Linked DNA regions of Homo sapiens. The protein of the gene in region 3 purifies or fractionates together with the protein of the main gene of each other region. This does not show direct contact. Each region holds a gene or a part of one and is shown on either strand. Other genes may lie near its edges. The genes, in order: LRSAM1, UBE3B, CBS, CARS1, PARP6, TRAP1 and ERO1A.

The links.
Region 1: the proteins of CBS (region 3) and LRSAM1 fractionate together in Homo sapiens (co-fractionation; one large-scale study listed by BioGRID). This does not show direct contact.
Region 2: the proteins of CBS (region 3) and UBE3B fractionate together in Homo sapiens (co-fractionation; one large-scale study listed by BioGRID). This does not show direct contact.
Region 4: the proteins of CBS (region 3) and CARS1 fractionate together in Homo sapiens (co-fractionation; one large-scale study listed by BioGRID). This does not show direct contact.
Region 5: the proteins of CBS (region 3) and PARP6 fractionate together in Homo sapiens (co-fractionation; one large-scale study listed by BioGRID). This does not show direct contact.
Region 6: the proteins of CBS (region 3) and TRAP1 purify together in Homo sapiens (affinity purification with mass spectrometry, with the first as the bait; one large-scale study listed by BioGRID). This does not show direct contact.
Region 7: the proteins of CBS (region 3) and ERO1A fractionate together in Homo sapiens (co-fractionation; one large-scale study listed by BioGRID). This does not show direct contact.

The regions. Positions count from the first base shown.
Region 1 is NC_000009.12:127,458,010-127,461,509, forward strand, and holds part of LRSAM1 (E3 ubiquitin-protein ligase LRSAM1), read left to right. Parts: intron 1-993; coding exon 994-1,062; intron 1,063-3,163; coding exon 3,164-3,248; intron 3,249-3,500.
Region 2 is NC_000012.12:109,519,024-109,523,029, forward strand, and holds part of UBE3B (ubiquitin-protein ligase E3B), read left to right. Parts: intron 1-2,124; coding exon 2,125-2,301; intron 2,302-2,417; coding exon 2,418-2,528; intron 2,529-4,006. UniProt on the Homo sapiens protein: E3 ubiquitin-protein ligase which accepts ubiquitin from an E2 ubiquitin-conjugating enzyme in the form of a thioester and then directly transfers the ubiquitin to targeted substrates.
Region 3 is NC_000021.9:43,072,793-43,077,238, reverse strand, and holds the start of CBS (cystathionine beta-synthase), read left to right. Parts: upstream 1-1,403; 5' UTR 1,404-1,469; exon of another isoform or gene 1,470-2,736; intron 2,737-3,897; 5' UTR 3,898-3,973; intron 3,974-4,446. UniProt on the Homo sapiens protein: Hydro-lyase catalyzing the first step of the transsulfuration pathway, where the hydroxyl group of L-serine is displaced by L-homocysteine in a beta-replacement reaction to form L-cystathionine, the precursor of L-cysteine.
Region 4 is NC_000011.10:3,015,418-3,019,423, reverse strand, and holds part of CARS1 (cysteine--tRNA ligase, cytoplasmic), read left to right. Parts: intron 1-156; coding exon 157-285; intron 286-674; coding exon 675-804; intron 805-883; coding exon of another isoform or gene 884-912; coding exon 913-1,016; intron 1,017-1,469; coding exon 1,470-1,567; exon of another isoform or gene 1,568-1,568; intron 1,569-2,128; coding exon 2,129-2,318; intron 2,319-3,574; coding exon 3,575-3,643; intron 3,644-4,006. UniProt on the Homo sapiens protein: Catalyzes the ATP-dependent ligation of cysteine to tRNA(Cys).
Region 5 is NC_000015.10:72,265,765-72,269,770, reverse strand, and holds part of PARP6 (protein mono-ADP-ribosyltransferase PARP6), read left to right. Parts: intron 1-2,099; 5' UTR 2,100-2,293; coding exon 2,294-2,296; intron 2,297-2,948; coding exon 2,949-3,026; intron 3,027-3,779; coding exon 3,780-3,874; intron 3,875-4,006. UniProt on the Homo sapiens protein: Mono-ADP-ribosyltransferase that mediates mono-ADP-ribosylation of target proteins.
Region 6 is NC_000016.10:3,672,262-3,676,267, forward strand, and holds part of TRAP1 (heat shock protein 75 kDa, mitochondrial isoform 1 precursor), read right to left. Parts: exon of another isoform or gene 3,885-4,006; coding exon 3,775-3,884; exon of another isoform or gene 3,137-3,774; coding exon 3,063-3,136; exon of another isoform or gene 2,234-3,062; coding exon 2,078-2,233; intron 560-2,077; coding exon 439-559; intron 1-438.
Region 7 is NC_000014.9:52,653,670-52,657,675, reverse strand, and holds part of ERO1A (ERO1-like protein alpha isoform 2 precursor), read left to right. Parts: intron 1-4,006. UniProt on the Homo sapiens protein: Oxidoreductase involved in disulfide bond formation in the endoplasmic reticulum. Efficiently reoxidizes P4HB/PDI, the enzyme catalyzing protein disulfide formation, in order to allow P4HB to sustain additional rounds of disulfide formation.

The DNA.
Region 1 (3,500 bases), on a different chromosome or scaffold from region 3:
TCCATAGATATGGAGGGTACCTGTGTGTGCACATGTATAAATATTTCTCCAAGGCCTTTTTTGTGCATTTTCATTTTTAAAAAATTAGCAGTCAGTCGTGGTGGCTCACACCCATAATCCTAGCACTTTGGGAGGCCAAGGCGGGTGGGTCACTTGAGGTCAGGAGTTCAAGACCAGCCTGGCCAACATGGTGAAACCCCGTCTCTACTAAAAATACAAAAAATTAGCCGGGCGCGGTGGCGGGCGCCTGTAGTCCCAGCTACTCGGGAGGCTGAGGCAGGAGAATGGCGTGAACCCGGGAAGCGGAGCTTGCAGTGAGCCGAGATTGCGCCACTGCAGTCCGCAGTCCGGCGTGGGCGACAGAGCGAGACTTCGTCTCAAAAACAAAACAAAACAAAACAAAACAAAACAAAAAAAAACACCAGCAGAGCATGTTGGCTTGTGCTTGTAATCCCAGCTACTTGGGAGGCTGAGGCACGAGAATCACTTGAACCCAGGAGGTGGAGGTTGCAGTGAGCTGAGGTCGTGCCACTGCACTCCAGCCTGGGTGACAGAGTGAGACTCTGTCTCAAAATAAAACAAAATAAAATAAAATTAAATTAAAAATTAGCAAGTACAGTTAAGCAAAGGGGGAAACATCTATAATTTTACACTGTGGAGTACCACTGTCAATATTTTATCGCATATTTGAAAGTCTTACATATTTATACAATGGAGTGTTTCTTTTTAACATATTAGTATCTAGGCATACTGTTTTATAGCATAGTTTTTCAGTTAACAGTAAAAATAAATATACATAAAATAAGAAAATGGTATAATGGTTTGAGAAGGAAAATGAGGCGGGAATGATCAACACTGAGTGGGAAAGGAGTGGCAGGCACTCTGTTTCTGCACTGGGGGTGTGAGGTGGCCCCAGCCCCTCCTCAGCGCTCTGGAGCCCGGAGTCTGAGGGACTTTCTCACTTGGAGACTCACAGGGGTCTTTCTTCTGCAGGTTCTAGATCTCCACGATAATCAGCTGACAGCCCTTCCTGACGATCTGGGGCAGCTGACTGCCCTCCAGGTAAGGCTGCAGAAACAGAAACCCACCTCGGATGGCCTTAGTGAGACCAGGCAGTCACTCAAGCCTGGAATGTTCTGGCCGGGCTCCAGCCAGTGGAAGCAGGCTGCAATCAGTGCCAGCTCCACCCTCCCCTTGGCCCTTTGGGGTTTTTTTTTTTTTTTTTGAGGCAGTGCCTCACTGCGTTGCCCAGGCTGGGGTGCAGTGGCGCCATCAGAGTTGCAGAGGCAACCTCTGCCTCCCGAGTTCAAGCGATTCTCCTGCCTCAGCCTCCCTAGTAGCTGGGATTACAGGTGTGTGCCACCACTCCCAGCTAGTTTTTGTATTTTTAGTAGAGATGGTGTTTCGCCTTGTTGGCCTGACTGGTCTCAAACTCCTGACCTCAAGTTATCCACTCACTTTGGCCTCCCAAAGTGCTGGGATTACAGGTGTGAGCCACCACGCCTGACCAATTGTACCACTTTGAGCCACAATAAATACCTTGGTGTAGGACTTTTTGTATGTGTATTTTTTTTTTCTCACTCTTGTCACCCAGGCTGGAGTGCAGTGGCACCATCTCAACTCACTGCAACATCTGCCTCCCGGGTTCAAGAGATTCTCATGCCTCAGCCTCCTGAGTATCTGGGATTACAGGCACACGCCACCACACCTGGACAATTTTTGTATTTTCAGTAGAGACTTGTTTTCACCATGTTGGCCAGGCTGACCTCAAACTCCTGGCCTCAGGTGATCCACCCGTCTTGGCCTCCCAAAGTGCTGGAATTACAGGCATGAGCCACTGCACCTGGCCAGTAGGTGTATTTTTATAGAATTGCTGCATTCACTAATTTGTAACTTTTGGATACCTGACAATAACTCATAGCATCCTTTGGTTCATCAAATATTCATCTTATTATTTTTAATGGCTACTTAGCTTTCCATTGCATCATTTTTTGTTTGTTTGTATTTTTGAGATAGAGTCTCGCTCTATCACCAGGCTGGAGTGCAGTGGTGTGATCTCGGCTCACTGCAATCTCCACCTCCCGGGTTCAAGCGATTCCCCTGCCTCAGCCTCCTAAGTAGCTGGAATTACAGGCGCCCACCACTATGCCTGGCTAATTTTTTATATTTTAGTAGAGACGGGGTTTCACCATGTTCACCAGGATGGTCTCAATCTCCTGATCTCATGATCCACCCACCTCAGCCTCCCAAAGTGCTGGGATTACAGGTGTTAGCCACCGTGCCTGGCCCCCATTGCATCTATTTTTAATGGTTAGTGTGTCATCCTGCTAGCCTTGCTCACCTCGAGGTACCACCTTCTGGAGGGAGCACAGCTTCGGAATCCAACAAGCCCTGGTTCAGTCCCAGCACCACTGCCGGCCTGAGGCCTTGGGTGGATCACACGGCCTTAGGGCAGCCTTTTCCTTAAGGCCAGGGGAACTAGAGCCTCCTGTGCTGCCTCCCCAGATCCCCAAGTCTGTAGTCCCCTTCTCCCTCCTTCCCTGATGGTGGGGCAGTTACTGAGCATTTTGTGGTCGGTGTAAGTGCTGGAACCTCAGCCAGAAGGGGTTCAAGGCCTGGCTGTGCTCTCCTGAGCACGTGACTTTGCCACCCTGAGCTTCAGTTTTTTTCCTGTCTCCAGCGGAAACAAGAATTTCTGTCTTCCTCAAGGGCCGGTAGGGGGAGATAAGAGCTTGTGTGTGTAGTGCCTGGGTGCCCTGGCCCGGCAGGGCGAGGGGTGCGGGGGTCATCACTGTGGTCTGTGTGTGGGTTCTCGTGTCACCTCTTCCTGTTTCTTTCTTTTTTTTTTTTTTTTTTTTTTTTTTGAGACGGAGTCTCACTCTGTTGCCCAGGCCGGAGTGCAATGGTGCAATCTCAGCTCACCGCAACCTCTGCCTCCTGGGTTCAAGCAATTCTCCTGCCTCAGCCTCCCGAGTAGCTGGGACTACAGGTGTGTGCCACCATGCCCAGCTAATTTTTGTATTTTTAGTAGAGATGGGATTTCACTATGTTGGCCAGGCTGGTCTTGAACTCTTGACCTTGTGATCCACCTGCCTCGGCCTCCCAAAGTGCTGGGATTACAGGCATAAGCCACTGCGCCTGGCTGCCTCTTCCTCTTTCTTAGGTCTTAAACGTGGAAAGGAATCAACTGATGCAGCTCCCACGTTCCATTGGGAACCTGACCCAGCTCCAGACTCTCAATGTTAAAGGTAGGGACCAAGAAGCCGTGTCCGTGTGACCCTCCATCAGCTCTGGGCCATCCTGGCCGGGATCCACAGGCTGCCCCGCCCGGGAGCCATTGAGCAGGAGGGCAGCCAGTCTCCGGGGGTCGCTGTAAATGGACTGACCCCTGCTGGGTCAGCTGTCTTCATGGTAACCAGAGACAGGCTGTCTGGAGGGTTCCTGTGGCTCCTGAGAGCCAGGGCCGTATGGCCGTATGGGGAGGAGGGCAGCTGGGCCCC
Region 2 (4,006 bases), on a different chromosome or scaffold from region 3:
TCTCTATTAGGCTTCCAGATATTAAAGTCCTGTAGGAAGGCTCTTCTTCCCAGAGGGTGAGTTTGGGCTGGAACTCTAGTATTCAGAACCGGAAGGATCCTCAAACATACTCTTACCCAGTCCTTTCCCCTGTCTCTGTCAAAGGCAGAACTGAGGCCAGAGAACTTCAGTCAAGGTCACTTGGATATCAGTGATAGAGCTGGGCCTGGAAGCCAGGCATCCCTTTTCTAGCTCAGTATTCCCTGTGTGTGCATGTTGAGATGCAGTGAAGAAGAGGAACGCTGACTCACATTCACCTCCCAAGAGGCATGGATATAATCCTCGCATATCCACGCCAGTTCCCAGAAGGCAGGAAATGTATCACAAGAGGCAGTCCCCTCTAAACGTTTAAACAAAGAGGCTGGTGTGGAGCTGATCAAGCAAGACTGAGATTTGAATCCAGTAAACGCTCCTTGAGCTAGGCCATGTGCCACTTGCTTTCACATGTACCATCCCATTTCATCCACATAACCACAAACGCATCTACTAATGCGTGTGAAGGCTGGGGAGGCATAATTTTAAAGCAGGTTGGAGGAACTCCTGCAGGCAGACAGGAACTTGATGGAATTCTCCATCCGTTCTCATCTCAGTGCCAAGATAATTATCTTAAATTTAGGCAGAATGGTTTAAATGCTGTTACAGCTGCCTGTTGACTTCCTGTTTCTCCCTTTTGTCATCTAACTTAATGATTCTCAAACTTTATGTACATAAAAAGTCCTTCTCAGGTTTGCCTCCACAAAACTGTGCTCCTGTTCCCACATGTGACTTAGGGGTCTTGAGAGGTAATTTTCCCTTGCCCACTAACTTTGAAGCCTAACCCCTGAATCGGGGCACCATAGGATAGTCCTTTGGGGATCACTGGGTGAACATGGCAGGAAGGCAGCAAGGGTTCCCCAAAACAGGTCTCGCCACACTGGCATACTGCTCGTTTGCTTTGTGATGAGGGGACCAGACGGCAGCCGAGTGGATGCTGTGGAGACAGCCTGTCTAACCTGCGAAGCATGTGACAGTGTTACAGTTGTAGCTGAAAGGGAGAAATGTGGCATGGCCTTCATAGGACAGCAGGGTTGATTGGTCACTTGTTCCATCACAGTGTCTGAAGACATCAGTTTCACCTGGTGATTGGGCCTCTCAAGTCGGGCCAACAGACTCTTCCCTGGGCCCTGTGCTGTTCAGCACTGTTTTTATAGTCACTGCTCTGAAATAAAAACCTCAGCACCCCAAGTACTAGGAATGCATTAGATGATGGAACCAGAAGCCAGGAAGGCCTCAACAGATTAGAATCAAGAGACAAACTAAACAGATGATTTAGTAGGAGAACTCCAAAGTTGTGGTTCTGGGGCTGTGCATGTTGAGGTCTGGATGGAGTAGATGTGCTGAATGGCTGTGTCCTAACAGAGCTGACCACCAGCCAGAAGTCCAGGCCCAGCACCACCCCCACATCTCGGTCTCTGCTCCCTGCGTTGATCCCTGCCATCCACCTGCTCTGCTGCCAATAGAAAGATCTGACAGAAAGTCAGCCCTGTTACTCTTTGCCTAAAACCTTCTGCAGCTCCCATTACCTTCAGGATGTCCCCTAAATTCCTCAGCATGACTTGCAGGCACTTCATGATTGGGAAGGCAGCGGGAGATGAGGGGTGATGGGTAATTCTTTTCATTTTACAGTGTTCTGTAGGTTTGATTTTTTTTTTTTTTCTTTTTTCTTTTTTTTACCATGAGCTAAAGATACTCTTAGCATTGAGAGAGAGAGAAATGTATCTTGTCCCGGTTTCTTTCATCCTTTGTCTGATGGCCAGGAGCTTGTCATGACTCATTTTGTCTAACTTCCCCATCTCACTGCTCTGTCCCCTTGAGGTCAGTCTCCCCTTGCCAAGGAGTGATACTGTCACATCCCCAAATGAATCTTTGCTTTTAATCAGCACTCATTCAAAAGCAGGTGAGAACGGCTCCTGTCATGCATCCACGTTTCATAATTTGCACATTTGGTAATGATGCTGGGAGAGCTTCGCACAGAGGAGAGGGAACCCCGAATTGTGTGCATAAGGCTTTGGGCTTCCTAATGGGCTGTAATTCTGCTCTTGGCAGGACGGCTACGAGCAGCTTAGGCAGCTCTCCCAGCACGCCATGAAGGGGGTCATCCGTGTGAAGTTTGTCAATGACCTCGGGGTGGACGAAGCAGGGATTGATCAAGACGGTGTTTTTAAGGAGTTCTTGGAAGAGATCATCAAGAGAGTTTTTGACCCAGCACTCAATCTGTTCAAGGTATTTAAGGGGAGCAACAGCAGGGCTGACAGCAGCCAGATTCAAGAAGTGAAGAGCTGGGCTTGCTCCTTGCAAGGCACTTGACCTCTGCCTCTCCCCGTCTTTTTGCCTTGCAGACAACCAGTGGGGATGAGAGGCTGTACCCCTCACCCACATCCTACATCCATGAGAATTACCTGCAGCTCTTCGAGTTTGTGGGGAAGATGCTGGGGAAGGCTGTGTATGAGGTAGGAACGTTAAGAAACAGAGAAATGTAAAATAAAATGTTAACGGTACCATGGGCTTCTTCACATACACATATGTGATCAGGCTTGGCCATGTAAACTGTCACTAGGATACAAGCGAGGACAGGGGCAGGAACCAAGGTTTGTTGTACACCAGTGCTAGGTACTTTGCCTGTGGCATCTCATCTCATCCCATCGACAGCCCTGTGACGGGGCTGCCACTGTCCTGGCTATTTAAGGATGGGAGACCTGAAGCTTTGAGGAGTCACCTGTCCAGAGTTTCGTTGCTAGTTAAGTGGTAGAGGTGGAATTTGAACCCAGGCCGGCCCAAGTCCTAAGGCCAGCCCTCTTCTTTCCTGAGGCATGAGGAGTGGTGTGCAGAGCCAGATGGCCACACGGAGGCTGGGTCCCCGTTGTAGGAGGGCAGCATTTTGTGGAGTTTGATAGTTTTAAAATCTTGTGTTGTTTGAGTGAGTGCTTCCCAGCCATGGCAACAGGACAGGACCAGCTGTTCCTAGTCAGCCGTGTGACCATGTGCCTTCAAGTTTCTTTAGTTTTTAAGCCGTGTTCTCGCATCAGTAAAGTGGAGATAAGAAAAGCCACATTCCTGGGTTGCCGTTAATGGTAAGTGAGGAGGGCCTTCTACGGTGCCCAGCCAGCTGCTCACACCAGGTGGATCGGAGCAGTCATCCTCACCTTACTAAGAGGAAGTGAGTCTGGGTTTCCACTCTGTGGCCTGATGGGGTCAGGGTGATGTGGCCCACACAGCTCCTGTCCATTGAAACCCCGTCCATTGAAAGCCAAGGTGGGACCACCTTCAGTGGGAAGTCACCGCCTGTTCCTTGGGAGAGTCCTGTTTCCCAGGAGGAAGGAAAGCTGCAGCACAAGCCCAGCCAGTCTGTGTGGCCTTCGCAGTGGGCTCCAGAGCTGCAGGGACCCTGCCTGGGTCTCAGGCTCTGCTGAGCTTCTGGCCCAAGCACGGAGGAAGCGAGCCACCTGGGCAGCACTCCTCGCATACCCCAGGAACCTGGAGAAGCCAGATGCTTTCCAAACAGAAAGAGCCAGCAGCTGGGCCAAGCTGAGAGGGAGGTCTCAGGGCCAAACTCCTTTCACTCTCGAATAATCCATTGTTCTCTCTGTCTGGAAACAGTCTATGTGCACCGGCCTCAGTCCCTGGCCATGATGGAATCAGGTGGCCCATCTGAGCCCCTGCCCAAACACCATCCAGTCTTCCTTGTGCCCTCCAGTGATTTGGGTCCTGGGCCCATTCTCTGTGCCTCTGTTTCCTCATCTGCATAATAGAAACAATTTCTCAGTTGATTTCCATTGAAAAAGTTAAAAATCCCATTAGGACCCACCCGAGCACATGGCATATGTTTTCCTTTAAACACGTTGCTGTGATGACACTCAGAAGAGCCTGGGCCACCTGGAAAGCATGGCCTCCTGGCTTCTCTGAATGTCATGCCATTTCCCAGGCCTCG
Region 3 (4,446 bases):
AGCCATCCCTGCCATTTCTCGTCTGGTGGCAGCACATCTCATCTCTGCCGCCATCTCCACATGGCCTTTTTCTCTCCGCGTGTCTGTGTCCACGTCTCTCTTCTTATAAAGACTGGACAGGATTTTTTTTTTTTTTTTTTTTTTTTTTTTTTTTTCTGGAGACAGTCTCGCTCAGTCGCACAGGCTGGAGGACAGTGGCGCGATCCCGGCCTCCAATGCCACCTTCCAGAGCCTTCATGATGTAACTCCATCCCTGTCCCCTCCCCACATCGCCGGCTTTATTGTTCTTCGTGTCAGTTCCTGCCAGTGGACATTTAATTCTAATTCACGTCTCACTCCCTCCCCTACTGTGAGCCCCACGTGGCAGAGACCGCGGCGGAGCTGCGCGGGCCGGAGGAGGCTGCGGAGCATCGCTCTGACCTGAGCCGGGGACGCTGCGGAGGCGCAGCACGTTCCTCTGCCCAGAGCTGATGGGCACCGTCCGTGTCTTTCGCTGCAGGTCCGGGGGGAGACTCGGGGGCCTGGGATCCCCCATTTAGCCATAGGGCGGGGGGATCAGGTTCAGCCTCTGAAAGTCCAGAGCACGATGTTTGGGAAACGGCCCCGCCCGCGGCCTCCGGGACCTGGCGAAGGAGCCCCGCGGGGCGCCCCTGCTACCACCCTGCGCGGAGTCGGCCCCGTCCCCGAGAGCGCCCGGCAGCCCCTGGCCGTGGGCCGCACCGGAGCCGCGCAAGGCGACTGTTCTGCGCCTCGGCTCGGGGTTCGGACCCGGCTCTGGGCGCGGTCACGCGGGGCGCTGCGCACGGCGTCCGGCGGCCACAGAGCGCGGCCATCGAGTCCCGCCCCGGCGCGGCGCCCCCTCCCGGGCCCGCGACACACGCCCTCGGGGTCGGTCCTCGAGGACGCGCAGGGCCCCCCACCCACCAGGACGCACGTTTCAAGCTCATCAGTAAAGGTTCCTTAAATTCCCGAAGGGCAAGAAGTTAACCAAGTAAAACAGCATCGGAACACCAGGTAGAAGACACCACCGGGGTCCGCGGGTGGGGGTGGCTGGAACCCGGGGCGGGCGGGCTCAGGCGAAGAGGAAGGCGGGGGAGGGGGCGGCGACCCGGGTCTGCGGTTGAATCAACAGGGCGTGGGAATGGGGCGGGCGGACTGGGGTGGGGGCATGCCGGGGTCCCGGGGAGGGCGGGGGTCGGGCAGGCCGGAGGGTCCCAGGCTGCGGCGGGGTGGGGAAGGGGTGGGGGGGAGGGGCCCGGGCTGGGTGGGGTGGAGGAGGGGCTGGGGGGGCGGGTGCTCTGCCACGAGACATTGGCCGGCGCCGGCCTCCGCCCCCGCCTCTCCGCCAATCACCGCCCGCCTGCTCCCCTCGCCGTGGGTCCCCGCGAGGCCGCCACCCCGGGGTCGCCGTCTCCGCCTCGCCGCAGTCGGGGCAGCCGCTCGCCCCTCTTTTCCATGTATCCGTCCAGGTGAGATCCGGCCCCACCGAGACTCGCTCCCCTCTCTGGACAGAGGATCTCAACTGGGTCCCGGTTTCCCTCTCCGCGCCTCCGCCCAGAGTTGCATCATCTGCACCGAAAGGCGGCGAGACAGGGTCTCCCAAGACCCCCGCCCCACCGGCGCCCACGCCTGCGGTCTTGACCGCCCAGAAGATGGGGGCTGGCCGTGCACGTGGCCCCGGGCTCCCACCCCAGCCCCCGCGCCGGCGGAGTGGACCCCACTGGCGGCGAGTCCTGGAGCGTGGAGCAGGGACGCGGGGTGGGAATCCGGGGGAGATGCACGTTTCGGTGCCCAGCATTGAGTTCGCTGCATTGTGGATGGGAAATGGCTGTTTGCAAATCGCCCTTTTTGGCGGACCGTGTGGGGTGGCGGTAAACGCTGTCGTTGCGCGGGCGGCACGCGAGGTGGGTGCCCGCTGGGGGAGGGACGCGGGGCTCTGCCCAGGTTGCGTTCGGGGGATGGAGGTTTTCCTGGGACCTCACTTCCCTGAGCCCCAGGCGAGACCGCAGCTGAGCTGTAGGATGCAAGCGGGAGGCGGAGCGTGGGTGGGAGAGCGGAGCGCGAAATTCTCGGCTTCCCGAGGATCTTCTGGGCTTACTTGTCCCCAGCTTTGTCCCAAAGTGTCGCTTCCGGAGGCGGAGTGGCCGGCGGTTTCCGGGTCTCAGTAGGGTCTGGATCTCCCACCTGGAAACCTAGAGGAGTTTCCCGCTCTCCGTGCGCGTGGCCTTCCCCAGGCCCCTCCGGGAGTGCTGGCGCGCGAGTGCAGGGGTGCCCCGGGAACGTCGTGACCCCAAGGGGGTCTTGTGGTTTAAGGAGCGAACGGAACCGGCCAGGCGATGCCAGCTGAACCCGCCTTCCCGGGACGCACGTGCATCCGGCCGCCCGGCGCTGTTGTCTTGGGGAGCCCGCGGGTTCGGGTCTGGGTCGCCTGGCGAGCTTTCCGCCGAGCGCCTCTGAGTTCTACAGAGCCCCGACGGCTTGCGATCTGCGTTCCCGGCAGTCCCTTACCTTGCGAGAGAGGGCTCCAGGGCGAGGCGAGGGGCCAAAAGCAAGGCGCTGGGCCGCCTGCGTCTGCCGGGGCCTCGGGTCCACGGCTTTCTGGAAGATTCGGCGGCGGAGCATGCGCGCCCCAGGCCAGACAGGGCCTGTGCCAGACGGAGAGTCCCTTCCCGTAGGTGACTCCCGCGACCCGCGGAGGAAGGTGCTGCTCCGCTCACGGCGGCGGCTTCTTACAAGGTTGGGATAGAAAGAAAAGCGTGGGACACGAACCTCTGAAAGCGGGTGCATTTTTCTGGGGAAGAGAAGATCCAACGCCTTCGGATTTTCAGACAAGTCCGTGGTCCCAAGACCTTGAAAGCACCACCCTCCAGGGTCGTTTGAAGCCGCTTTGGCCCCCAGTCTGGTGAATTGCAAAGGTGGAGGGGAGGCTGGGAAGTCCAGGAGGCCAAGCTGAGGCCTGGGTAGGGCCTGTGCGCAGAGACCACCTGAACAGCATACTCCAAGGGCTTCCAAAGGCAGCCGGCTTCCGCAACTTTTTCTTTTTTAATAGGCTTTTTAAAAAAAAAGCAGTTTTAGGCCGGGCGGGGTGGCTCACTCCTATAATCCCAGCACTTTGAGAGGCTAGGCGGGCGAATCACCTGAGGTCAGGAGTTCGAGACCAGCCTGGCCAACATGGTGAAACTTCGTCTCTACTAAAAATACAAAAATTAGCCGGATGTGGTGGCGGGCGTCTGTAATCCTACTCAGGAGGCTGAGACAGGAGAACTGCTTGAACCCGGGAGGTGGAGGTTGCAGTGAGCCGAGATCGCACCACTGCTCCAGCCTGGGCAACAAGAGGGAGACTCCGTCTCGAAAATTTAAAAAAGAGCAGTTTTAGATTTAGAAAAATTGAAAAAATAGATAGAGTTCCCCCAGTTTCCCCTGTTATTAAGATCTTAAACTGATGTCGTATATTTGTTACTTTATTTATTTTCTTTTATTTTTATTTTTATTTTTATTTTTTGAGACGGAGTCTCGCTCTGTTGCCAGGCTGGAGTGCAGTGGCGCGATCTCGGCTCACTGACCTCCCCCTCCCGGGTTCAAGCGATTCTCCTGCCTCAGCTTCCCGAGTAGCTGGGACTACAGGTGTGCGCCACCATGCTTGGCTAATTTTTGTAGTTTTAGTAGAAACGGGGTTTCACCATGTTGGCCAGGATGGTCTCGATCTCTTGACCTCATGATCCGCCCGCCTCGGCCTCCCAAAGTGCTGGGATTACAGGCGTGAGCCACCGCGCCCGGCCTATTTGTTACAATTAATGAGCCAATTCCACGATCACATAACCATTGTTGACATTAACCAAAGTCCGCGCTTGAGTCAGATTTGCAGAGTTTTCTCCTCACTGCCCTTTTCTATTCCAGGATCCCATGACAGATTCTGTTGTCACGTCTCCTTACAGAGTTTGAGCGGTGCTGAACTGTCAGCACCATCTGTCCGGTGAGTGACGGCTGTGGACTTAGTCTTCCTGTTGAATGTGGGGAATCAAAGGAGGGTGAAGCGGGGCTGAGCCCAGTCCTGGGCCCTCTGAAGAAGGCAAGGTGGGAGGTGGTCGTGGGTTCCTTGTCCCCCCAGAGGAGGGGCAGCAGATGGGACCTCGCCTGGCTTTCTTTTTGCTTTCTTCTTTTTTTTTTCTGTCTCATCTATTTCAGGTGCGTGTGTGTGTTTTTAATCCTGGGTAAAATACACGTAACACTGATCACTGTAACCATTTCTAAGTGTGAGGCAACCACCGTGACTATCTCCACCCAGAACGTTTTCATCATCCCCAGCACAACCTCTGCACCCATTAAACAATCACCCTCCCTTCCCCACTCACCTCAGCCGCTGGCCGCTTCTATTCTACTTTCTATCTCTATGAATTTGCCAGACATAGAGGGGCGTTCGAGAGTCCCAGGTGCCTCATCGTGGAA
Region 4 (4,006 bases), on a different chromosome or scaffold from region 3:
TCGCCCAGCCTTCCCTTAGTCTTTTCATGTGCGGGATTTAACGCTTGTTCCAATAAAGTTCAGAGGATGTAAGGGCCATCAACTTGGAGTGATAAGTGATAAAGGCCTGGACAAGCGGGTAGGCTGGTCAGTCACTGTGTGTTCGGCTTTCTCCAGGGTCGTCCGGGCTGGCATATCGAGTGCTCGGCCATGGCAGGCACCCTCCTAGGGGCTTCGATGGACATTCACGGAGGTGGGTTCGACCTCCGGTTCCCCCACCATGACAATGAGCTGGCACAGTCGGAGGTAGGTGAAAACAGAGTCCCCTTGTCAGGTGCAAGAGCACAGTGTTCATACTGCAGTGGAGGAAAAGTCAGCCCAGGCCTCAGAAGGGCCTCTCTCACTAGAACTTGACACCTTCATCGGGGCTTGTGGGTGGAATCTGAACCCTGATCATTTAGTGTGGTTTCCGCATTGACAGCCTGGCCTTTGGCAACAGACTAGCCTGGATTTGAACCAGTTGTGTTACCTGCTGGCTTATTAACCTGGGCTGTCCTTCCAAGCCCTGCCTGCACCACCTGGAAAACGCAGCTCCTGCCTGTGGACAGCACCAACAAGGCAGCAGACAGTGCAGGTGGCAGGAGGCGGCCCCAGTAACACATGACTGTTGACATCCTTTGTCTCTTTCCACGCAGGCCTACTTTGAAAACGACTGCTGGGTCAGGTACTTCCTGCACACAGGCCACCTGACCATTGCAGGCTGCAAAATGTCAAAGTCACTAAAAAACTTCATCACCATTAAAGATGCCTTGAAAAAGCACTCAGGTATACACTGGCTTCTCCCACAGACCCCCCAACCACCTTCTCATACATGTGTAATGGCTGTAGCACTCGGGAGAATAAGGGCGTTGGCTGTCTTGTGTCCCCCCACAGCACGGCAGTTGCGGCTGGCCTTCCTCATGCACTCGTGGAAGGACACCCTGGACTACTCCAGCAACACCATGGAGTCAGCGCTTCAATATGAGAAGTTCTTGAATGTGAGTCCCCAGCCCCTTCCTGGAGGTTGGTGGAGCAGCCTCCCCTGCACAGTGGGCACCTTGTGCAGTGGTGATAGGTGCACCAGCCTCCCGATGTCTCTAATGGAGACCAGCACATGGGTGGAAGCACCTCCATGCTAGTGGGTATAACAGGCTCGGGGCCACTCCTGAAATGGCTGACGGCTCAGCAGAGTGGACAGAGGCCTCGTCCTCCTAGTCACTGCAGTGCACGTCCTTCTGACTTGTACTTTCCACCAAATGAGCATCTGTAAACCTAAAGCAAGAGCATGTTTCTGTCAAAGAAATATCTTTTCCTTTCTTTCTGACCACTTGTGTAATTCTGGTCTTTCAGATTTTTACCAAAAATAAAATCACAGCAGTAGAAAGTTGTAACAGATATTTCAGGATGGAAAAGTTGCCTAAATGCTGTTAAACTGATTTTTCTAACTTCAGGAGTTTTTCTTAAATGTGAAAGATATCCTTCGCGCTCCTGTTGACATCACTGGTCAGTTTGAGAAGTGGGGAGAAGAAGAAGCAGAACTGAATAAGAAGTAAGGTGGTGCCATTTCTTTGGGGTTTTTGAGCATGCCCATGTTCTATGCCTAGCCTCGCATCTTGGCCACCATGTGTCCTGGACTGTCGAGGAAGGGCTGGGGACACTGTCGTACGTTGTGCAGAATTAATTCAGGATAGGCGGCTCTGCTAATGGGAGCTGCTCTGGGTGTTGAAGTGCATGGAGAATTTCTTTTTTGTTTTTTCTTTTTGAGACGGAGTTTCGCCCTTGTTGCCCAGGCTGGAGTGCAGTGGCGTGATCTCGGCTCACCACAACCTCCACCTCCCGGGTTCGAGCGATTCTCCTGCCTCAGCCTCCCGAGTAGCTGGGGTTACAGGCATGCGCCACCATACCTGGCTAATTTCAGATTTTTAGTAGAGGTGGGGGTCTCTCCATGTTTGTCAGGCTGGTCTCGAACTCCCGACCTCAGGTGATCCGCCCACCTCAGCCTCCCAAAGTGCTGGGATTATAGGCGTGAGCCACTGCGCCTGGCCACATGGGGAATTTCTATGGTGTGTTTTCAGGTCTGACTTCACATTCCTTCCTCTTTGTTGCTCAGCTTTTATGACAAGAAGACAGCAATTCACAAAGCCCTCTGTGACAATGTTGACACCCGCACCGTCATGGAAGAGATGCGGGCCTTGGTCAGTCAGTGCAACCTCTATATGGCAGCCCGGAAAGCCGTGAGGAAGAGGCCCAACCAGGCTCTGCTGGAGAACATCGCCCTGTACCTCACCCATATGCTGAAGGTAAGCCAGGCCCCAGGCAGGCGTATCCCTCAGCCTGTGTGGACACAGGAGCCAGGCCCCAGGACTGGGAGAACAGAGGCCTCTGGTGCCCCCCAGTGCTGTGCCTGGTGCCCAGCACCTCTGAGACGTGGAGATATGCTTCTGTCCTCTTTGGTTCCTGGTGTGCTTTTCACGCGTTAGAAATAACACCCATAAGCGGAGCACAGTGGCTCACATCTATAATCCAACACTGTGGGAGGCCAGGTGAGTGTATCACCTGAGCCCAGGAGTTCAAAACCAGCCTGGACAACATAGTGAGATCCCGGGTCTATAAAATATATTAAAAATTAGCCAGGTGTGGTGGCACACACCTGTTTTCCAGCTGCTTGGGAGGCTGAGGTGAGGGGCTCGCTTGAGCCCAGGAGGTTGAATAGTGAGGTGTGATTGCACTACTGCACTCCACTCTGGGCAATAGAGGGGAGACCCTGTCTCAAAACCAGACAAAAATAAGTAACATCCATATAGTTGTCCTTACTCAGAGCTATTTCTTTCCTTTGACTCCGTTTCCCTCTACTCCCATCTTGGAGTTTGAAAAGCAAAACCACGCCAGGCGCTGTGGCTCACGCCTGTAATCCCAGCACTTTGGGAGGCCAAGGCGGGCGGATCACAAGGTCAGGAGATGGAGACCATCCTGACTAACACGGTGAAACCCCGTCTCTACTAAAAAAAATACAAAAAACTAGCCAGGCATGGTGGCGGGTTCCTGTAGTTCCAGCTACTCGGGAGGCTGAGGCAGGAGAATGGCATGAACCCAGGAGGCAGAGCTTGCAGTGAGCCAAGATTGCGCCATTGCACTCCAGCCTGGGCGACAGAGTGAGATTCCATCTCAAAAAAAAAAAAAAAAGAGAAGCAAAACCAGGGACAAGGCCTCCTCTCTGAACACATCCTGTGCAGAGCCCTTCCCCGCAGTGCACCTTGAAAGGCCAGCAGGGCCTGGACTCAACTCCCCTCCCCTCTCCTCCTCTTTCCTTGTTGTTGGGCTCCAGTGGCTTCTGGCTGAAACAGAGCTGGAGAGGGTAGCTGTGAGTCAGGGCCATCCTGGAGCAATGAGGGCACCCTCAGGCTCGGGTTTCTGGGGCTCCTGGAGCTGCTGCTTCCATCTCTTTCCTGGTCTTGGGGCACCCCCTCCCGTGAACGAGGAACACAGCTCACAGCTGCTCGCCACATGCCGCCTTCATCTTGCCGCAGCTTCAGGTCCCATCTGTTTCTTTTCCTAGATCTTTGGGGCCGTAGAAGAGGACAGCTCCCTGGGATTCCCGGTCGGAGGGCCTGGAACCAGCCTCAGTGTGAGTAGCATGCAGGGTCCTGCCTTCTGCACCTGCTCCCTCCCCACTCCCTACCCCTCTGTGTCCCTCTGAACTGCCCCTCCTCTGTCTGCCCACCCACACCAGACCCTTCCGGACAGCGCCTCGAGCTAAATGGCAATTCTGGCTCTGAGAGTGCTAAGTGTGGTCAGCTGCCCTGCCGGTGTGGAGGGTCTGCTTTGGTTGTGACTGTTGGTTTGGGGCACTTTGCCATTGTGCTGTCCCATGAGCTTGGTCTTGGACCCCAACTACATAGGCCGCTGCTTATTTGCATTTTGCTGCGGCCACTTGGCATCATGAACACACATGACTTCGTCACATATACTGACCTGTATTCAGTAAATG
Region 5 (4,006 bases), on a different chromosome or scaffold from region 3:
TGCACCACCATGCCTTGCTAATGTTTTTATTTTAGTGGAGAAGGAGTTTCACCATGTTGGCCATGCTGGTCTCGAACTCCTGACCTCAGGTGTCCTGCCCACCTGGGCCTCACAAAGTGCTAGGATTACAGGCATGAGCCTCAGTGCCTGGCCATTTCTGGAGTTTCTAATTCAGTAGGTCTTAGGAGGAGTCTGAGAATTTGCATTTCTAACAAGTTCCTAGATGATACTGATGCTGTAGGTCCACCAACCCCAGTCAGAGAATCACTAATCTGGAAACCTGACATTCAGTAGAACTGTATTAGAGACCTGCCAGGCACAGTGGCTCACATCTGTAATCCCAACACTTTGGGAGGCCGAGGCGGGTGGATCACCTGAGGTCAGGAGTTCGAGACCAGCCTGGCCAACCTGGTGAAACCCCGTCTCTACTAAAAATACAAAAATTAGCTGGGCATGGTGGCGGGCGCCTATAATCCCAGCTACGTGGGAGGCTGAGACAGGAGAATTGCTTGAACCCGGGAGGCAGAGGTTGCAGTGAGCCGAGATCGCACCATTGCACTCCAGCCTGGGCGACACAGCGAAACTCTGTCAGAAAACAAAAAAAGAAGAAGAAGAAGAACTGTGTTAGAGACCAAGAACACCTCTGTTTGAGGTTGGAGTAGCTTCAGCTGCGATGTGTGCAAAGCCAGTGACTTGCTGGTCTAGAGAGCAACAGAAAGCTTTTTTAGCCTGCTTTTAGGGTAGATTTGCCATCTTCAGCCATTAAAGCCTTCATAATTTCACAGATGAGTTTTTTGTTTTGTTTTGTTTTTCTGCTATATGTGGAGGTTTTAATGGAGCTAAAAGTTGCTGGTATAGGATTAGGAGTCTGTGGGATTAGAAGCGAGCAGGGAATTGTGTATGAAAGGGCTCTGGGTTAAGTAAAAGTTTTTCTAAGCAATTTTTGGGATAATTATTGCATTTTTCTTTGGGAAGCAGGTTCCAAGATGACTTTAGGGCATTATTTTGGCAATGACAACTGAGACCATAACTGCCAAAAGATGTTCAGTGTTGTTGAGGACTTTTTATTTTGAGATGGAGTTTTTGCTCTTACTGTCCAGGCTGGAGTGCAGTGGCGTGATCTAGGCTCACTGCAATCTCCGCCTCCCGGATTCAAGCGATTCTCCTGCCTCAGCCTCCTGAGTAGCTGGGATCGTAAGCGCACGCCACCACACCCAGCTAAGTTTGTATTTTTGGTAGAGACGGGGTTTCACCCCATTGGTCAGGCTGGTCTTGAACTCCTGACCTCAGGTGATCTGGCCGTTGAGGACTTTTTAAGTTAGCTATTGTTGCCGTATAATAGCTAGTAATACTGATGTTTAAAGAGAGATACTGGCTAATATGGAGAAATAACTAAGAATAAAGAGTCCAGAAATAATCCGATTCTGAATCTTAACTCTGGTGTGAGTTGGTACTCTGAAGAATTAACTGACAGAGTAAACATAAGCATCTTGTCCTGCCACCATCACTTTTGGCTTTAGGAGTTGTAACATTATGAGCTAGAGCAGGATCTTGCTCTAATCCCAGCTCTCCAGTTTAAGTAGAACAGCAGTATCTTGCATATAGTGCTTTTGTGTTTCATTATCTATAAAGAACTGCATGTGCAAGTGTGCATGTATATGCACGCAAGCATGTCTTTTTATATGCAAGTATCTGTATGTATAATAAAAGTGTATTAATAGCCAGGTGCAATGGCTCACGCCTGTATTCCCAGCAATTTGGGAGGCCGAGGCCGGTAGGTCACCTGAAGTCGGGAGTTCGAGACCAGCCTGGCCAATGTGGTGAAACCCCATCTCTACTGAAAATATTAAAATTAGCTGGGCGTGGCAGCAGGCACCTGTAATTCCAGCTACTTGGGAGGCTGAGGCATGAGAATTACTTGAACCCAGGAGGCGGAGGTTGCAGTGAGCCAAGATCGCGCCATTGCACTCCAGCCTGGGCGACAAGAGCGAAACTCTGTCTCAAAAAAAAAAAGTGTATTGATAAATACGTGTGCCTGTATATATACACCACCCAGCTATTAAGTGGTGATGAAACCCATTATTATCTACTTTCCACAGGACAGTGACTTGTTACCACCGCAACAGCAGAGCCTGCCATCCCCAACAGATCACCAGTTGTCCCTGACATCGTGCCCTACCTTGTCTCCCTTTGTGGTCTCCTAAATGCCCATCTCGTTGGCCTTGGTTCGGCTAGTGGTATGGAGGGGTGCTGCCTAGCACTGACCTGAGAGTGTGTGTGACCCACTGACCCAATGGTGAGAACTGACTGCCCACCTCTCCAACTGATTGTTCAAAGGGTAGAGGAGACAAAGTGCAGATCTCACCCTTTCTTGGTATTTTCCCTTCTACCCTTTTGGAAGATAGAGTGGCTATTTGAAGTTAAAGGAAAGGGAAGGGGCACAGAAACAGTATTACTTGGTGTGTTTGTGTAGTGGGTTTTCTTGGGGAGGGAGAGGAGAGTTAAGTACTTTAAAGGATAGAAAGAAAATAATGAGACAAGAGAGTTTAGGTGTGCTTGGGAACTGTCTTAGGTAATGATCCTGGAAGAGGCCAGCTTGTACTGGAACCCAGATATGCTTAGGAGTCAACCTTGACATTGAAGTCATTTGCATTTCTTTCCTACTGGCTACCAGAGCCTCTCAGTCATCATACTGAGACTTCAGAAGGCCAAAATTCCCTAGATGTTTTCCTCTGTCCCACTAAGAGCTAGTTTATGGATATGATCATATCAGGAAGAGACTGAGACTCTCACAAAGGGTGACATGAAAGGTGTAAAGGGATCAGGGCTTCAGTTATTCTATATTTCCCAATCTTTGTGGGAATCTGTTCCTCACCATATCATCCCACGCCTTTCCATGGGATAATAGGGACCTAACAAAGCATGATATCCTTATTTCTCACCACTAGGACATCAAAGGCCAGTTCTGGAATGATGACGACTCGGAGGGAGATAATGAATCAGAGGAATTTCTCTATGGCGTTCAGGTGAGGTTACATCTCCCAAGACCCCCGTGTTGGATGGTCTAGATATGTGCTGCTTTTTGGATACATCAGGAGTGAAAGAGGTTCTGGAGCACAGATGAGATGAGGTTATAATGTTGATGTGGTCTGAGCATGGTCTTGTCAGAGCTGATCCCGTGCCCTTGCTCTTTCTTTGGAGTCATACCTGTTCCAGAGTAAACTACATCCTCTGTATGTGGAGACTACCCATATCTTAATTAGACATAATTATTTTCTGACTTTTATAACACTAGCCAGTGGGGGTAGTTTCATTCATTAGGGTCACATCTTAAAAGATTACTCTGCCAGCGTTTGCTTAATGCCATCACTACCCAGGGCACAGTCCTGAGCAGAAGTACCCAGACTCTCAGAATGCTCTTCACTTAGAACCAATCTTAGGAAACCTGTAACTCTTCAGCCTGTTCTGAGTTGTCATAGAAGGTATCCTGGTCAAGGTCTGAGAGAAAAGCTGGAGATTTAAGGAAGTGAACTCCAAGCAAAAGCCTACATTTGGTCTGCTGAACCTTTTTAAAGTCATGATGAGATGGAGACCTCTGTTAATGAAATCCCTTGCTAGGGTCACCACTGAGAACCCCTTCACATAAGTGGCTTTTACTTCCCCTATACTGCTGTCTGATTTCTCCTGTTCCTGGTGTCTTTTCATATTCTTTTTATTATCTCTCTCTTTCCCTCGTCTTTTTCCACCTCTCTCCACCACCATTTTTGCTGCTATCTCAGGGGAGCTGTGCAGCTGACCTGTATCGACACCCACAGCTTGATGCAGACATTGAAGCCGTGAAGGAGATCTACAGTGAGAACTCTGTATCCATCAGGTGGGACTCTACTTCAGGGGTGGCAGGGGAGCAAGTCACTTCTTTCTGAGTTGTTAAAAGGCTAGAGGTTTTTCTTTTTATGGTATGATAGTGGGATAAATTATGAACTTAATGATAGAAAATGCTCAGAAT
Region 6 (4,006 bases), on a different chromosome or scaffold from region 3:
TTGCAGTGAGCCACGATTGCACCACCGCACTCCAGCCTGGGTGACAGAGCAAGACTCGTCTCAAAAAACAAACAAACAAAACTCTATCAGGGATGGTTCGCACCTCTGTGTACCAAGGCTTAAATACTGAAGTCTTTCTTAAACTATAATCTCACTCAAACGTAACACAACTCACATATCAATCTGAAACTCAGTATCCCTACATATGGAAAGACCTCAATCTGAACACCCCAGTGCTCCCCCCAGATCAGTCATGTGCGTAGGGAGGTGGGGCAGCTCCCGGGGTCTGTAAACGCGACTGACACACAGGCAGCGCAGGCCGACGGCGGTGCTCTCGCTGCAGAGGGCTGCTGAGAATGGAATCAGCACGGTCCCTCACAGATGCAGCGGGCGACACTGGGCCACGGGGGCACTGCTCACGGACTCTGAGCAGCGTACCTCGGATGAAGCGCAGCCACTTGGGCAGGATGTCCGTGGCCTTGGTCTGGATGAGGACTTTGCGGCTGTACAGTGCAACGCTGGAGCCCAGCTCCCGGCTCACATCAAACATGGACGGTTTCTGGGGGTGAGGAGAACACGCCATCATGCAGCACTGACCCTCCCCAGGCAGGCCCTGGCTGGGAGGTGGGGGCGGACACGATGAATCCAGAGCCCACTCCCGCCTCGCCCTCCCCCAGCGTCTGCTCTGAGTTGAAGCCCAGTGCAGGGGCCCCACGATGCCCCACACTGTGGCTCTGCAGGGGCTGAAGGCCTTCTCTGGCAGCTGCCGCCCTCCCCAGCCCACCCCCTAAGGAGGACACAAGAGAGTGAACCTTGCACGTACCCCTGAACACACTGAACACAGCCAAACCTTGCTACAGGTCAGGGATCAGCAAAGAGCCCTCCGACCAGATCCAGCTCACTGCCTACCTCTGTGTAGCCTAAGAGTGGTTTTTACACTTTCAAACAGTTGAGGAAAGATTTCAAAAAGGATGATCTCATGAGACGTGAAGATGAAACTCAAATTTCAGTGTCTACGCAGCTCATGGGACCCGGCCCTGTGTGCTCAGAGGGCAGCAGGGCAGTGCTGCTTCCTCACCCGGCAGGGTTAGTGGCTACGAAAGACACCGGGCCCGAAACGCTGGGACCAGCTCCTGTCTGGCCCTCGTGGAACGTGCCTGCCAACACCTGCTCCACACTGGTACTTCCCGAACCGGGACCCACACCTCATCACGGGATCTGGTTAAAATGCGGCGGGTATCTAGTTCAAATGTTGGGAGACCTGGTTAAAATGTGGGGCGACCTGGTTAAAATGGGGGGGATCCGGTTAAAATGCGGGGAGATCTTATTAAAATGTGGGCTCCCACGCAGGAGCCCTGGGTGGGGCCTGAGACTCTAACAAGCCCCTGGAGGCCACACCTGGCTGGCTCTTTCCAAGATGGATGCCAGCTGTGCAGGACATTAGGAGAGTTTCCAGGCAGCCAAGGACAGAAGAGCCTGGGGGCAGGACGGGCTGGCTCTCAGCCCCGAATAGGTCTCCTTACGGCAGGATTTGCGGGAACTTCAATGTGGTAAAGGAAACCAGGGGAGGTGGAGGGTGTGGAGGAAGCACACAGAGAGGCCAACGGAGAGGCAAGACCACAGGCCCTTCCCAGAGCGCCTGGCAGGACAGCATCCACTGATCCACAGCAGATGATGTAGGCTCTGAGGGCCCTCCCCAGGCACACCCCAGTCCACAAGCCTCCACCCCAGCCTGCACTGAGATGCCCATCAATCCTTCCCTCGCCATGTGTGACCCCTGAGACAGAGGAAACCTCTGTGGTTACCCACCCAGAGGCATCTGTTCTTTTTTTCTTTTTTTTCAGAGATGGGGTCTCACTATGTTGGCCAGCCTGGTCTGCAACTCCTGGGCTCAGGTGATCCACCCTCCTCAGCCTCCCAAAGTGCTGGGATAACAGGCGTGAGCCACCACACCCAGCACTACCTATGTTTTTCATGCCCTCACACTGCCATGTTAATCATGTGACATCTGCAGAGCTGATGCCACAGGGGACAACAGAGTCACCCTGAGGGCCGTGGGACTGCCACAGTGCCTCACCATGTCGGGCACGTAGAAGATGCTGCGGATGTTGAGCGGTGCGTCCGTCTTATAGTGCAGGGTGTAGCGGGGCTTGTCGTGAGCCTGCGCGACGTAGCGGTAGAACTCCTCATGTTGCCACTCACGGACATCCTTGGGGTCCATCATCCAGATGGCCTGGAAACGGAGATCGGCGGGGAGGGCGTCGTGTTCACCACGCACGTCTTCTCCACCACCGTGCAGGCCTGAGCCAGTGCAGCGCCTGGCCCTGGACAGGCTCCTGGGACAGACGGGCGGTGGTCTCAGGCGTAGACCCCTCTCCAGCCCCACCGCTGGGCTATGCCGGGTAGTGCAGGGGAGACACACAAGGCTCTGGGGCAGGAGCTCCTCAGGACAACATGTCAGGAGGACCAGCCGGGACCTGAGGGGGCCTGTGGGAGAGGATGACGCTGCCCAGCAGGGGCGAGCTGACGAATACAGTGTGGGCCGTGAGAGCGATGACGACCCACGCTGCACCGCAGCTGAGCCGCGAGGGGGAAGTCAGTCACTGAGGACAGCATGCCGTGTGACTCCATCCAGGAGAAACGTCTGGAACAGGCAGCACAATGGACAGAAAGGAGACCGTGGCTGCTGGGACTGGGGGAGGGGCAGTGGGGAAAGGGCTGCTTTTTGGGGTGATGGGATGTTCTGGAATTGATGCGGGGTGGCTGCACAGCTCTGTGGCTGCACTGAACACCATGGCTGCACACTGATGTGGTGAGCCAGCTGGGATGGGCGTTACGCCTCAGTGAACCCTGACCCCTGACCCCGGCTGCCCGGTGCACAGGGGCAGGGCTGTGGTAGAGCTGGGCCCCTGTCTCATCCCCACACCCAGGTCTCATCTCCACAGAGCAGCTCGCCCTGTGACTCTGGGCCGCATCCCCTGGGCTCATCTCTTCTCCGCTGCCCTGAAACGTACAGATTTGTCTCCATGTTTGACCAGTCCCTAGAGGAACTCAGGGCTCACCTGCAAGGTGTTCATCCGCCTTCCATTCAAGTACAAGGGGAAGCTGACGAAGTTGCTGTACTTCGTTACCACATCTGGAAGGGACAAAAGAAAAACCACACTGCATCTACAATGCTTGTGGAAACGCAAGCTTTGCAGCAGCTCCAGGATGAGCGCCAGCCTGCTGGGAAGGGTCCTCCATGCTGTGTACACTTCACAGGTACAGAAACAGGGCACAGTGGGGACACCTGTCCTCCCCCCAGTCTCACGGGGGCAGCAGCGGAGCCCACGTGAGAACCAGAGCTGTGGAGGCCCCGGCTGCTGCGAGACTGCAATGTCAGCTTGTGGCTGGAACATGGCTTTCTGGGCTGACTCCTGGGGGTACTCAGGGCCTCCCTGAGTGTCCAGCAGGACACAAAGAGGGAAGGCCACGCCCACATCCTGGGACAGGACTGCGCCAAACCCCCAGGTGCACTAAAGGCCAAGGGCCACGCAGAGGAAGGAGGAGGAGGTCCGCCTCAGCCAGGCCAGCTTCCTCCCAGTCCCAGCAGGAGCTCGATGCTACGCAGCCCTGGCGGGCAGCCCCCCTCCCAGTCCCGCAGCGGCTCGGCCCTTCACGGCTCTGCCTGTGCACCCTACGTGCAGGTAGAACCAGGGAAAATGCCTGCTGACCTGGTGGCCTCCAGGCCACACATGGATCCCAGAGTGAGCCTGGGCCCGGGCTCCCGCTCACCTCGCACCCGGGCCTCGCTGGAAAACTCCTTGCAGTCGGATTTCAGGTGGATGATGATTTTTGTCCCGGTTCTAACTCCCGAAGCTTCGGCGATTTCAAACACTCCAGAACTAAGGCAGGCAAAGAAAGGAAAAGCCAGGTGGATGTGACACTGGGACATACCCTGCATGGGACTCCAGCGGTTCCCGAGGGTTTCATAGGCAGAGCCCAAACAACACACAACACACCTCAA
Region 7 (4,006 bases), on a different chromosome or scaffold from region 3:
GAAATATTCTTGTTTTCTTGTGGGAATTTAAATAGTTCCTAACAGCACAGTTTGCTATTTGATAGATATTGTTGTATCAGAACCTTTTTATTTGTGTGCTCGTATCAGGCCTGGAGTTTAAATGGGTAAAAGCCTTTCCTGCTGCTGTTGATGCCTTAATACTGTTGAAAATGAGACTGTGGTTGATTTTCATCAGTACCATATTTCTTCTGGAATTAAAGTATCACACTCTGAGAAACAAAATATAGAAACTTCCATTTTATTCATTGATTGATTGCTTGATTGATTGAGACAGGGTCTCACTCTATTGCCCACTCTAGTGTGCGATGGCCAAAACTGGGGCTTAGCCTGGGAGGGCACTTGGCTTTGCCCAGGAAAAAGTTTGAACCTCTCCTCATGAAGGAGAGCTGTCCCATAGGCAGTGTGCCCAGAGTAGCAGCTTGGAGGCAGTTCTGCAGCCATATTTATAGTCCACTTTTTATTATATGCAAATTATGAGGCAGATTATGCAGAAATTTCTAGGAAAAGGGTAGTAACTTCTGGGTCATTGCTATGGAAAGGGGTGGTAACTTCTGCATGTTGCCATGGGAATGAGAAACTGACATGGCACCCTGGTGGGTGTGCCTCATGGAAAGCTGCTTCAGCCCCCTCCCTGTTTTAGCTAGTTTTCAATTTGGTCCAGTGTCCTGAGTCCCACCTCCTGAGCCAAGTCCTACCTTCTACCTCATGACTACAGGAGCATGCCACCATGTCCAGCTAATTTTTCACAATATTTTTTGTAGAGACAAGATTTGGCCATGTTGCCCAGGCTGGTCTTGAACTCCTGAGCTCAAGTGATTTGCCCATCTTGGCCTCCCAGAGTACTGGGATTATAGCCGTGAGCTACTGTGCCTAGCCGTAACTTTGATTTTAAATGGCGGTTTAAACTCATTAGTAATTTTACTGTTTTTTTTTTTTTTTTTTTGAGACAGAGTCTTGTTCTGTCACCCAGGCTGGAGTGCAGTGGTGTGATCTTGGCTCACTGTGACCTCTGCCTCCTGGGTTCAAGTGATTCTCCTGCCTCAGCCTCCTGAGTAGCTGGGACCACAGGTGCATGCCACCACACCCAGCTAATTTTTTGTATTTTTAGTAGAGACGGGGTTTCACCATGTTGGCCAGGCTGGTCTCGAATTCCTGACCTCAGGTGATCCACCCGCCTTGGCCTCCCAAAGTGCTGGGATTACAGGCTTCAGCCACTGCACCTGGCCTAAACTCATTAGTAATTTTAGATCATCATTTTCAAATTGTGTGTTTAGGTTTTATGAATATGTTTATATTCAGAAGTTTGACTATTATTTTTTTTCATCTTTAAAAAAGGAAATTTTATTATTTTCCATCACATGAATGAACTTGGAGGACATTATATTTGTCAAAATGAGCCAGACACAAAGATTATTATTTCATGATTTCACTTACAAAGGGATTCTAAAAAACTTAATCTTATTGAAGTAGAGAGTAAAGTGGTGGCCACCAGACACCAAGGTATTTAGGAGACAGGAGGGTTTGAAAAGATGTTGATCAAAAAATACATAATTATAGTTAATAGAAGTTCAAGAGATATTTTTGTACAGCGTAGTGACTATAGATCAAAATAATGTATTTGTAGTTTTGAAAAATGCTGACAATGTCACTTGCTCTTGCCACAGAAATGTTAACTATGTGGCGTAATTACCTAGAATTAAGCATTTAACAATGTATATATACTTCCAAACATTATGTTTTACAAAATAAATATACATTTATTGATTACAGATGGTAATGGTATGAAAGCCACTGAAAGGGCAGGCGTTGCTTATGGTCTTATGACTGGCCACTTTGTGAACACAATAAACAAGTTTGCATTAAAAAAACCCAGAAAATGGTTTAATCTAAAAGTTGCCATGATCTTCAGAATTTTTCCAGAGAAAATGACCAAGAAGTTGACTACAGTTAGGTGACTAAGAATATAAGCTGTAGACACCTTCACCCACTAAAAAAAAAAATCACATAAAATAAGAGTGAGAAATTCCTCTGAGTTGTAATATCAATATGGAAAAGAAATATTATTCCAGATTTCAAATCCACAGAGATCATTTTATTATTTTGCAGCCTTTAACATTCACACTTAAAAATAAAAGATTCTACATGGAAACATGTGCTGTAAGTGTATCATAGAACATTAAATTTAAAATTATTCACTTACCATTAACTCTCCTAATACTTTAATTTCTATGATATATTTTCTAGCAAATTAGATAGATGTCACACTTTGTGTAAGAATTTTTTTTTTTTTGAGACAGAGTCTTGCTCTGTCGCCCAGGCTGGAGTGCAGTGGTGCAATCTTGGCTCACTACAACATCTGCCTCCAGGATTCAAGCAATTCTCCTGCCTCAGCCTCCTGAGTAACTGGGATTACAGGCATGTGCCACCACGCCCGGCTGATTTTTGTATTTTTAGTAGAGGTGGGGTTTCACCATGTTGGTAAGGCTGGTCTCAAACTCCTGACCTCGTGATCCACCTGCCTCGGCCTCCCAAAGTGCTGGGATTACAGTTGTGAGCCACCACGCCTGGCCTGTGTAAGAATTTAATAAGATTTTCCTTTTACAAACAGAGAAAAACAATGCTAAGTTACTTAATCCTCTCACCTGTGGACAGGTTTGCCTTTTATCTTAACTGATTTGAAAGTTATATTGATAAGCAAACTCTCTAGTTAAAACCAATTTTTGAATGCATTAAATAAATACCAACTTTCTCATCAAAACCTACAAAGTACCATGTAAAATGACATGGCATGAAGACAACAGTGAGAAAACTGTAGCCATCACATAGAAAAAGAAGGAGAAGGGCTGTGATGAATACACAGTTAGAAGACACATAATAGGACAAACAAAACTAAAGATAACTAGGAAATAAACAGAATTTCTCTTAAAATTCAGCAAGATTTAGCTTTGCAGCATGGAAAAATGTTATCTCCACATGAAGAATCAATCTTATTTCTTCACTATTGATATTTTCCTTCTCTGACTTGAACTTACAAACTAACTGTAGCAGGAATATTTATGGCTTATCATGGAGCATCCGTTACACAGCAAGTACTGTGTGTTTGTTTGCTACATTTATATATAAAAAACATCCTCATGACTTCTGAAGCATCCCTAGTTCTTACCTGAACAAATTGGCTCAATAAACATATAAATTTACTTATGTCAATTATAATGAGAATAAAATAAGTAAAAAAAAATACAGGCTTATGTAGAATTCTTTAATTAAAAGAACAAATGGAATGTCCTAATTAAATGAAATGTAATACACAATTTTGGAAATACATCTAAAAATTGTTTTGTGTGCACTACTATATTTTATAAAAATCATTCTTATTAGTCATGACCAGCTCACATAATACCTCATAAACTATAAAAGAAAAAAATTATAAGAGACAAGAAAATTATAAGTCTAGCATGAGAACCAGGCAAAGAAAAACAGAAAATGTTCATGGGGAGATTCTGAATCATAAGTCAGAAGATTTTACAGTAATGAATTTAATAAAAAGCAGAGTATAGATTTGCTTTCAGCATTTTTGAGGTTTTCAGTTTTCTAGTAAATTTGTCACCTTATTAAGATATTTGTTTTGTTCCAATATTGCTCTATTCTTCTGAAAACAGGTATAAACTCATACTCACCCAAACACACTTACTCTATAATTTTCTTGCACCTAAGGTCTATTTTTAGAGTAATATATGTGCATAGCTAACTCTATGTAAATCAGAACTAAAATTCTGTATGTTTGCAGGCAGAGAGACCACATGTTCAAAGAAAAATACATAACAAATTTTTTTAAATGTTTAAGCAGAACTCAGAATTTTAAGACTCAGGATTTTATTTATATTTATAAATAATTTTTATTATACCCATAAAAATGACCCTATAATCAATAGCAACTTAATTGTACATTTTAAAGTAACTAAAAGTGTAGAGTTGATAGAAATTT